2 linked regions of the Homo sapiens genome follow. The protein of the gene in region 1 purifies or fractionates together with the protein of each later gene. This does not show direct contact. Each region holds a gene or a part of one and is shown on either strand. Other genes may lie near its edges.

Evidence for each region. The genes of interacting proteins can lie anywhere in the genome.
Region 2: the proteins of SIGLEC5 (region 1) and INTS4 purify together in Homo sapiens (affinity purification with mass spectrometry; one large-scale study listed by BioGRID and IntAct). This does not show direct contact.

Annotation. Positions count from the first base shown.
Region 1 is NC_000019.10:51,627,602-51,631,589, reverse strand, and holds the start of SIGLEC5 (sialic acid-binding Ig-like lectin 5 isoform 1 precursor), read left to right. Parts: upstream 1-1,188; 5' UTR 1,189-1,254; coding exon 1,255-1,291; intron 1,292-1,373; coding exon 1,374-1,757; intron 1,758-1,953; coding exon 1,954-2,232; intron 2,233-2,513; coding exon 2,514-2,552; intron 2,553-3,498; coding exon 3,499-3,756; intron 3,757-3,843; coding exon 3,844-3,988. UniProt on the Homo sapiens protein: Putative adhesion molecule that mediates sialic-acid dependent binding to cells. Binds equally to alpha-2,3-linked and alpha-2,6-linked sialic acid. The sialic acid recognition site may be masked by cis interactions with sialic acids on the same cell surface.
Region 2 is NC_000011.10:77,921,669-77,925,168, reverse strand, and holds part of INTS4 (integrator complex subunit 4), read left to right. Parts: intron 1-276; coding exon 277-419; intron 420-501; coding exon of another isoform or gene 502-523; exon of another isoform or gene 524-1,718; intron 1,719-2,697; coding exon 2,698-2,813; intron 2,814-3,500. UniProt on the Homo sapiens protein: Component of the integrator complex, a multiprotein complex that terminates RNA polymerase II (Pol II) transcription in the promoter-proximal region of genes.

The DNA.
Region 1 (3,988 bases):
AAAGAGAAGTCGGTATTTCTTCTGGCATGGGTGGTTGACGTTTGTTTTGATCATTGATAGTTTAAGAAACTGTCTTTATTCTCACAACACATTAATCGGAATGTGAAAAATTTTTAATATATTGTTAAATTTTGGGAAACTATTATGAAATTTCTTTCATAAAAGAGCAGTAACAAGGCAGGTTATTTCCACACATTGCGTGGGCCCCTCCTGGGCATCTGAAAAGTGGATCCTGCAAGGGAGGGCATTGAAGATTGAGCTTCATCAGCCTCACAGTGGCAAATTTGCTTCTGTAGCTCCTTAATAGGATGAGGCTTTAGCAGGGCTTGTGTTTCACTGCCGTCCCACAAGACCCTCAGGTCCATCAAGACCCAAAGTGGACTGTGCTGTGTCCCAAGAATCTTCTTAACATAAGAGTGCTTCAGCTCTCTCATGCTCTGACCCTCCACGAAATTTGGGTCAAAAAAATTTTTTTTCAGCCCTTTTGAACTTTTTTTTTTTTTTTTTTAAGGCAGGGTTTCACTCTGTTGCCCAGGCTGGAATGCCGTAGTGCGATCACGGCTCACAGCAACCTCAAACTCCTGGGCTCAAGGAATTCTCCTATTTCAGTGCCCCGGAGGAGCTGAGACTATAGGTGTGCCACCACACCAGCTAATAGTTTTTATTTTTTGTAGAGATGGTGACTTGCTATGTTGCCCAGGCTGGTCTCAGACTCCTGGGCTCAAACAACCCTCCCACCTCAGCCTCCCGAAGTGCTGGGATTACAGGCATGAGCTACCATGCCTGGTCACTTTGAACATTTAAAATCAAATTTAAAATTATGTATTTCCAGAATGTTTCATGGTTTTTAGGTGGAGGGTGGTTCTGACATCTCACCTCATCACCAGGACAAGCCCTTGTTTCTCTTTTCTTTCTGCATTCAGCCCCCTGAGGATCTCACTCATGACTGAAACATCATTTGAGGGGTGATCACCTCCAGATCCTCAGCTGGACAAGCCTCACATCGTCTGGGGGCCTCAGTATCTTCACCTGCGGCGTCCAGTCGGGGTGGGAGCAGAATGGCTTCCCAGCCCCCGCCTCACCCCAACAGCACGTGATGCCCAAGTTCCCCTTCTGTGCGCGTCCACAGCTCTCACTCACCCTCCGGCTTCCTGTCGGGGCTTTCTCAGCCCCACCCCACGTTTGGACATTTGGAGCATTTCCTTCCCTGACAGCCGGACCTGGGACTGGGCTGGGGCCCTGGCGGATGGAGACATGCTGCCCCTGCTGCTGCTGCCCCTGCTGTGGGGGGGTGAGTGAGCTGAGGGAGGAGGGACAGGCACAGGGGTGAGAAGGGGGGCTGGAGCTGCAGCTGAGCTTCTGTGTCCCCCCAGGGTCCCTGCAGGAGAAGCCAGTGTACGAGCTGCAAGTGCAGAAGTCGGTGACGGTGCAGGAGGGCCTGTGCGTCCTTGTGCCCTGCTCCTTCTCTTACCCCTGGAGATCCTGGTATTCCTCTCCCCCACTCTACGTCTACTGGTTCCGGGACGGGGAGATCCCATACTACGCTGAGGTTGTGGCCACAAACAACCCAGACAGAAGAGTGAAGCCAGAGACCCAGGGCCGATTCCGCCTCCTTGGGGATGTCCAGAAGAAGAACTGCTCCCTGAGCATCGGAGATGCCAGAATGGAGGACACGGGAAGCTATTTCTTCCGCGTGGAGAGAGGAAGGGATGTAAAATATAGCTACCAACAGAATAAGCTGAACTTGGAGGTGACAGGTATGGCAGGGACCCCAGGAGAGGACCCTGGGACGTGGAGACCCCCGTATGAGAACAGGGACAGGAGTTGGGCAGGGGCGGCTGGAGGAGGTGTAGGACTTGGGGCAGGTCGGGGCCTGAGGCCTGGCCACTCTCGGGGTCACACCTTACGTCCTCAAGCCCCTGGGGCCCAGGTATCTCCCTGTCTCCTCCTCAGCCCTGATAGAGAAACCCGACATCCACTTTCTGGAGCCTCTGGAGTCCGGCCGCCCCACAAGGCTGAGCTGCAGCCTTCCAGGATCCTGTGAAGCGGGACCACCTCTCACATTCTCCTGGACGGGGAATGCCCTCAGCCCCCTGGACCCCGAGACCACCCGCTCCTCGGAGCTCACCCTCACCCCCAGGCCCGAGGACCATGGCACCAACCTCACCTGTCAGATGAAACGCCAAGGAGCTCAGGTGACCACGGAGAGAACTGTCCAGCTCAATGTCTCCTGTGAGTGGTGCTGGGGACACAGCTGAGTCCTCAAGGGCAGTGGGAGTGAGGGGTGTGTGTGTGTGTGTGTGTGTGTGTGTGTGTGTAAGGAAGACAGAGAGAAACAAAACAATAACTTGAGAAACCTTGTGTGTGGATCTAAGCCTTGGGATCTGCGGGGAGTGAGACAGGACAGCCTTCCCCGCTTGGTGGGTTTCTGTGGCTCCTCTTTGGGTACCTCCTGGGCCCATGCCCATCTCACTCCTCACTGCTGAAGCCAAGTTTATATCTTTTTATCCCAGATGCTCCACAGACCATCACCATCTTCAGGAACGGCATAGGTAGGAAAGACCTCCTCTCTGAAGCTGGGACCTGCCTCTGGGTCTGTCTCTGAGCAGAGGTAGAGAATCAGAGCTTGAATGCAATCAGATTTGGGAAGAGCAAGAATGAGAATTACTGCCTTCTGGCTTCCACCTTCTGTGAGCCCCATGTGCAGGCACATATGCACACACGCACATACACACGCACACATGCACACACGCACACACACACGCACACACACACATGCATATACACCACACACATACACATGCAATACACCACACACACACGCACATACACACACACATGCACACAGGCACACATGCACACACACCACACACATATGCACACACACACATACACCACACAGGCACATGCACATACACACGCACACATGCACATACACCACACACACATATGCAGATACACCCACACACGCACACATGTACGTACACCCGCACACGCACACACACACGCACACAGGTGCACACTCATGCACTCTGCTCAAAGCAGTGAACAGACTTTAGACCCCACCCATCTCCCATCCCTCCTGTGGTCTGGTTCTTTCCACAGTCACTAAGGACCACTCCATGCCCCTCTCATCTCAGTCAGCCCAGCTCTGTGGTTCTTCTCTCACCCTTCCACTCCTGCATCCTCAGTCTTATTTCCTGTCACATTAGCGGACTGTATTTCCCAACGCCACCGGGGGCTCTCTGTCCTCTCTCCACCACAGTCCAGGCATGTACCAGTGAGATATTGAGCCTCCTCTGGAGACATGAGACTCAGACACTTTTGGTCAGTTTCCTGAGTGTGCAAAGGCCCAGCCTTTGAACCAGGATGCAATCAAGCCAGCATAGGCCAGGGGAGGAGAGGGAGATGTCATCTGGATCCTGGGAAGGAGGGAAGGATAGGGACTGTCAGCCTCCCTGGCCCCATCTCTCTTTCCCCACCCTTCTCTCCCCAAAGCCCTAGAGATCCTGCAAAACACCTCATACCTTCCGGTCCTGGAGGGCCAGGCTCTGCGGCTGCTCTGTGATGCTCCCAGCAACCCCCCTGCACACCTGAGCTGGTTCCAGGGCTCCCCTGCCCTGAACGCCACCCCCATCTCCAATACCGGGATCTTGGAGCTTCGTCGAGTAAGGTCTGCAGAAGAAGGAGGCTTCACCTGCCGCGCTCAGCACCCGCTGGGCTTCCTGCAAATTTTTCTGAATCTCTCAGTTTACTGTGAGTGTGGGGGCAGCTGGAGCAGGAACTGCATGGTATTAAAGAAGGAAGAGGCCCCCTGCTGAGTTCTGTCCTCCCTCCCCACAGCCCTCCCACAGTTGCTGGGCCCCTCCTGCTCCTGGGAGGCTGAGGGTCTGCACTGCAGATGCTCCTTTCGAGCCCGGCCGGCCCCCTCCCTGTGCTGGCGGCTTGAGGAGAAGCCGCTGGAGGGGAACAGCAGCCAGGGCTCATT
Region 2 (3,500 bases), on another chromosome or scaffold:
CTAGTTGCAAAAAGGCTCTTGTACCTTCAGCATCATGATTGAGTTCCAGATAGGATGGAAAAGGAAGGTTAAAGAACAAAGGGGATAAAGCTACTGCCTCTGGTCCTTTATCAATAAAATGAAAGATATTTCAGGAATTTCAGCTAAAAAACTTCCACATACTTTGTTACATGGCCACCCTAGATGGGAAGGTGGCTGGGTAGAAGGGGATGGTAGATAGAGGCTGAGTCTGCTAACCAACAGTAACTACTGTTATTATTACTTTTTTTTTAAAAGGATTCATCCAGAGATATTCGAGAGGCTCTTCATGAACTCTTATGCTGTACTAATGTTTCAACCAAAGAAGGGATTCATCTTGCATTGGTGGAGCTGCTGAAAAATTTAACCAAGTACCCTACTGATAGGGACTCCATATGGAAGTAATGACTTTTTTGCCCATTTACTCACTGAGTCCCATAATGTGGTAAATGTATAATGCTGACATTTGTTCCGTCCTTATAGATTGAGGATAGTACGGCCCTGAATTTTGCCTTTACTTTAGAAACCTGATTCAACTTAACCGAACTCTCAGGAATCTGATTCCTAAGCTGAGTATCACATTTTAGATTACTTACTAATTTGTGCATCTATCCACCTAGCAAATATTATGTGCCTGCTGTGTGCTGACTATGCACCAACCCTTGTGGTAGCTGTTACAAGTATAGAAATAAATTAATTAGATTTCCTCTTTCTCCTATATAGTGTTTTGTTTTGTTACTTTTTTTTTTTGAGACGGAGTCTCGCTCTGTCACTCTGACTAGAATGCAGTGGCGTGATCTCAGCTCACTGCAACTTCTGCCTCCTGGGTTCAAGCGATTCTCCTGCCTCAGCCTCTCGAGTAACTGGGATTATAGGTTGCATGCCACCATACCCCAACTAATTTTTGTTTTTTTTTTTAGTAGAGATGGGGTTTTACCATGTTGGTTAGGCTGGTCTTGAACTCCTGACCTCAGGTGATCCCCCTGCCCCGGCCTCCCAAAGTGCTGGGATTACAGGCATGAGCCACTGTGCCTGGCCTTATTATTTTTTATTCATTAAGTTCTGGTTTAGAAGGTGCACTAAATTGGCTGGGTGCAGTGGCTCACGCCTATAATCCCAGCACTTTGGGAGGCTGGGGCGGGTGGATCACCTGAGGTCAGGAGTTCAAGACCACCCTGGCCAACATGGTGAAACCTCATCTCTACTAAAAATGCAAAAATCTGCCGGGCCTAGTGGCACACGCCTGTAATCCCAGATACTTGGGAGGCGAAGGCAGGAGAATTGCTTGAACCCTGGAAGCAGAGGTTGCAGTGAGCCGAGATTGTGCCACTGCATGCCAGCCTGGGCAGCAGAGCAAGACTCAGTCTCAAAAAAAAAAAAAAAACCATAAACAATAATAAAAATATATAATTACCTTGCTTTTATAGTTCCTTATAGTTTATAAAGGGCCCTCATGTAGTTATAATAGCTAACATTGAGTTCTTACTATGTGACAGACACTTTGCTAAGTACTTTATGTTAGTTATTTAATGCGTATAGCAACTCTATGAAGTAATGACTTTTAATCTCATTTTGTAGATGAAAAAATTTACTTGCATAAGGCTACTTAGTTTCAGACAGATCTGTGATTTCAGGACTTCACCCAGGATATCAATCAGAATGTTTTTGCCCACAAATAAAAAAGACAATCTGATTAAAAATATCTTAGCCAATAAGTCTGTTTTTTCATAACAAGTGGTCAGAAGGTTGGTTTCAGGATTCGTCATTCAACAGGTTACCAGGGCTCTCTTTGGTTTCTCTGCAGTTCTCTTGGCTTTTTTTTTTTTTTTTTTTTTGAGACAGAGTCTCTCTTTATCGCCAGGGTGGAGTGCATTGGCATAATATTGGCTCACTGAACCTCCGCCTTCCAGGTTCAAGTGATTCTCCTGCCTCAGCCTCCCGAGTAGCTGGGACTACAGGCCCGTGCCACCATGCCCAGCTAATTTTTGTATTTTTAGCAGAGATGGGGTTTCACCATGTTGGCCAGGATGGTCTTGATCTCTTGACCTCCTGATCCAGCCACTTCGGCCTCGCAAAGTGTTGGGATTATAGGCGTGAGCCACCACACCCGGCCGGCTTTCTTCTCATAGTTGTAAGATGGCTGCCTCATAAGATAATATCTCAAGACAGAAAGGAAGGGTCATTCCCTTTCATGCATTGCTCTTTTGATTTGCAAAAACATCCCTGAGAAGCTCCCCAGCCAGCATACTCTCGTGCTCCATTGTCTAGAACTGGCTTACTTGCCCACCAGCAAACCAGTCACTGGAAAATGGGAATGGGATTGCCATGATGGGTTTAGACCAATAGTGGTTCAGCTCTTGGGCTGGACCTGCCTTTTCCGAGCACTTTGCTGCCTGCCTGATACCTGAGTAAAATCAGGGCTCTCTCAGGAAGAAAGATGGGGGAAATGGCTCTTGGTTAAATAACCAGTTCTTTTATCTTTATAATAACCAGTTTTTTTAGATGAATTAACCGAGTTCCAGAATAACTGGGTGACTTATCTGAAGTCATAGAGTTAGCAAAAGTATATGGTTGAGAATTTCCAATTCCAGTTCAGGTTTTCTGATTCCAGTTCCTAGTACTTTTCAAAGGACTAACTTTACTAATTTGTTGATGTGCATTCTTATTTGTTTGTTTCAGGTGCTTGAAGTTTCTGGGAAGTCGGCATCCAACCCTGGTGCTTCCCTTGGTGCCAGAGCTTCTGAGCACCCACCCATTTTTTGACACAGCTGAACCAGACATGGATGATCCAGCTTGTATCCTCTGTGCTTAGGATGGGCCCTGATGTGTTGGCAGGCAGCTTTGGCATCTCCTTCTGCAGTATAGCTAGGGTAGTCTGAATTTTCTTTTCTTTGCTTTTCTTTCTTTTTTTTTTTTTTTTTTGAAGACAGAGTCTCATTCTGTCACCCAGGCTGGAGTGCAGTGGCCTGATCTCGGCTCACTGAAACCTCTGCCTCCCGGGTTCAAACAATTCTCCTGCCTCAGTCTCCTGAGTAGCTGGGATTATAGGCGCCCGCTACCACACCCAGCTAATTTTTGTATTTTTAGTAGAGATGAGGTATCACCATGTTGGCTAGGCTGGTCTCAAATTCCTAACCTGTTGCTTGGGCTGGAGTGCAGTGGCACCACCCCAGCTCACTGCAACCTCCGCCTCCCGGATTCAAATGATTCTCCTGGCTCAGCCTCCCAAGTAGCTGGGATTACAGGTGCCTGCCACCACTCCCGGCTAATTTTTGTATTTTTAGTAGAGACGGGGTTTTACCTTGTTGCCCAGGCTGGTCTCAAACTCCTGACCTCAAGTGATCCACCCACCTCAGCCTCCCAAAGTGTTGGGATTACAGGCGTGAGCCACCATGCCTGTCCAGTATGTACTTTGATAGGCAATATAGTTGCTTACTTTATAGGCAAAATCATTTCCATTTTTTGTATTCTTGGCAGTCTCT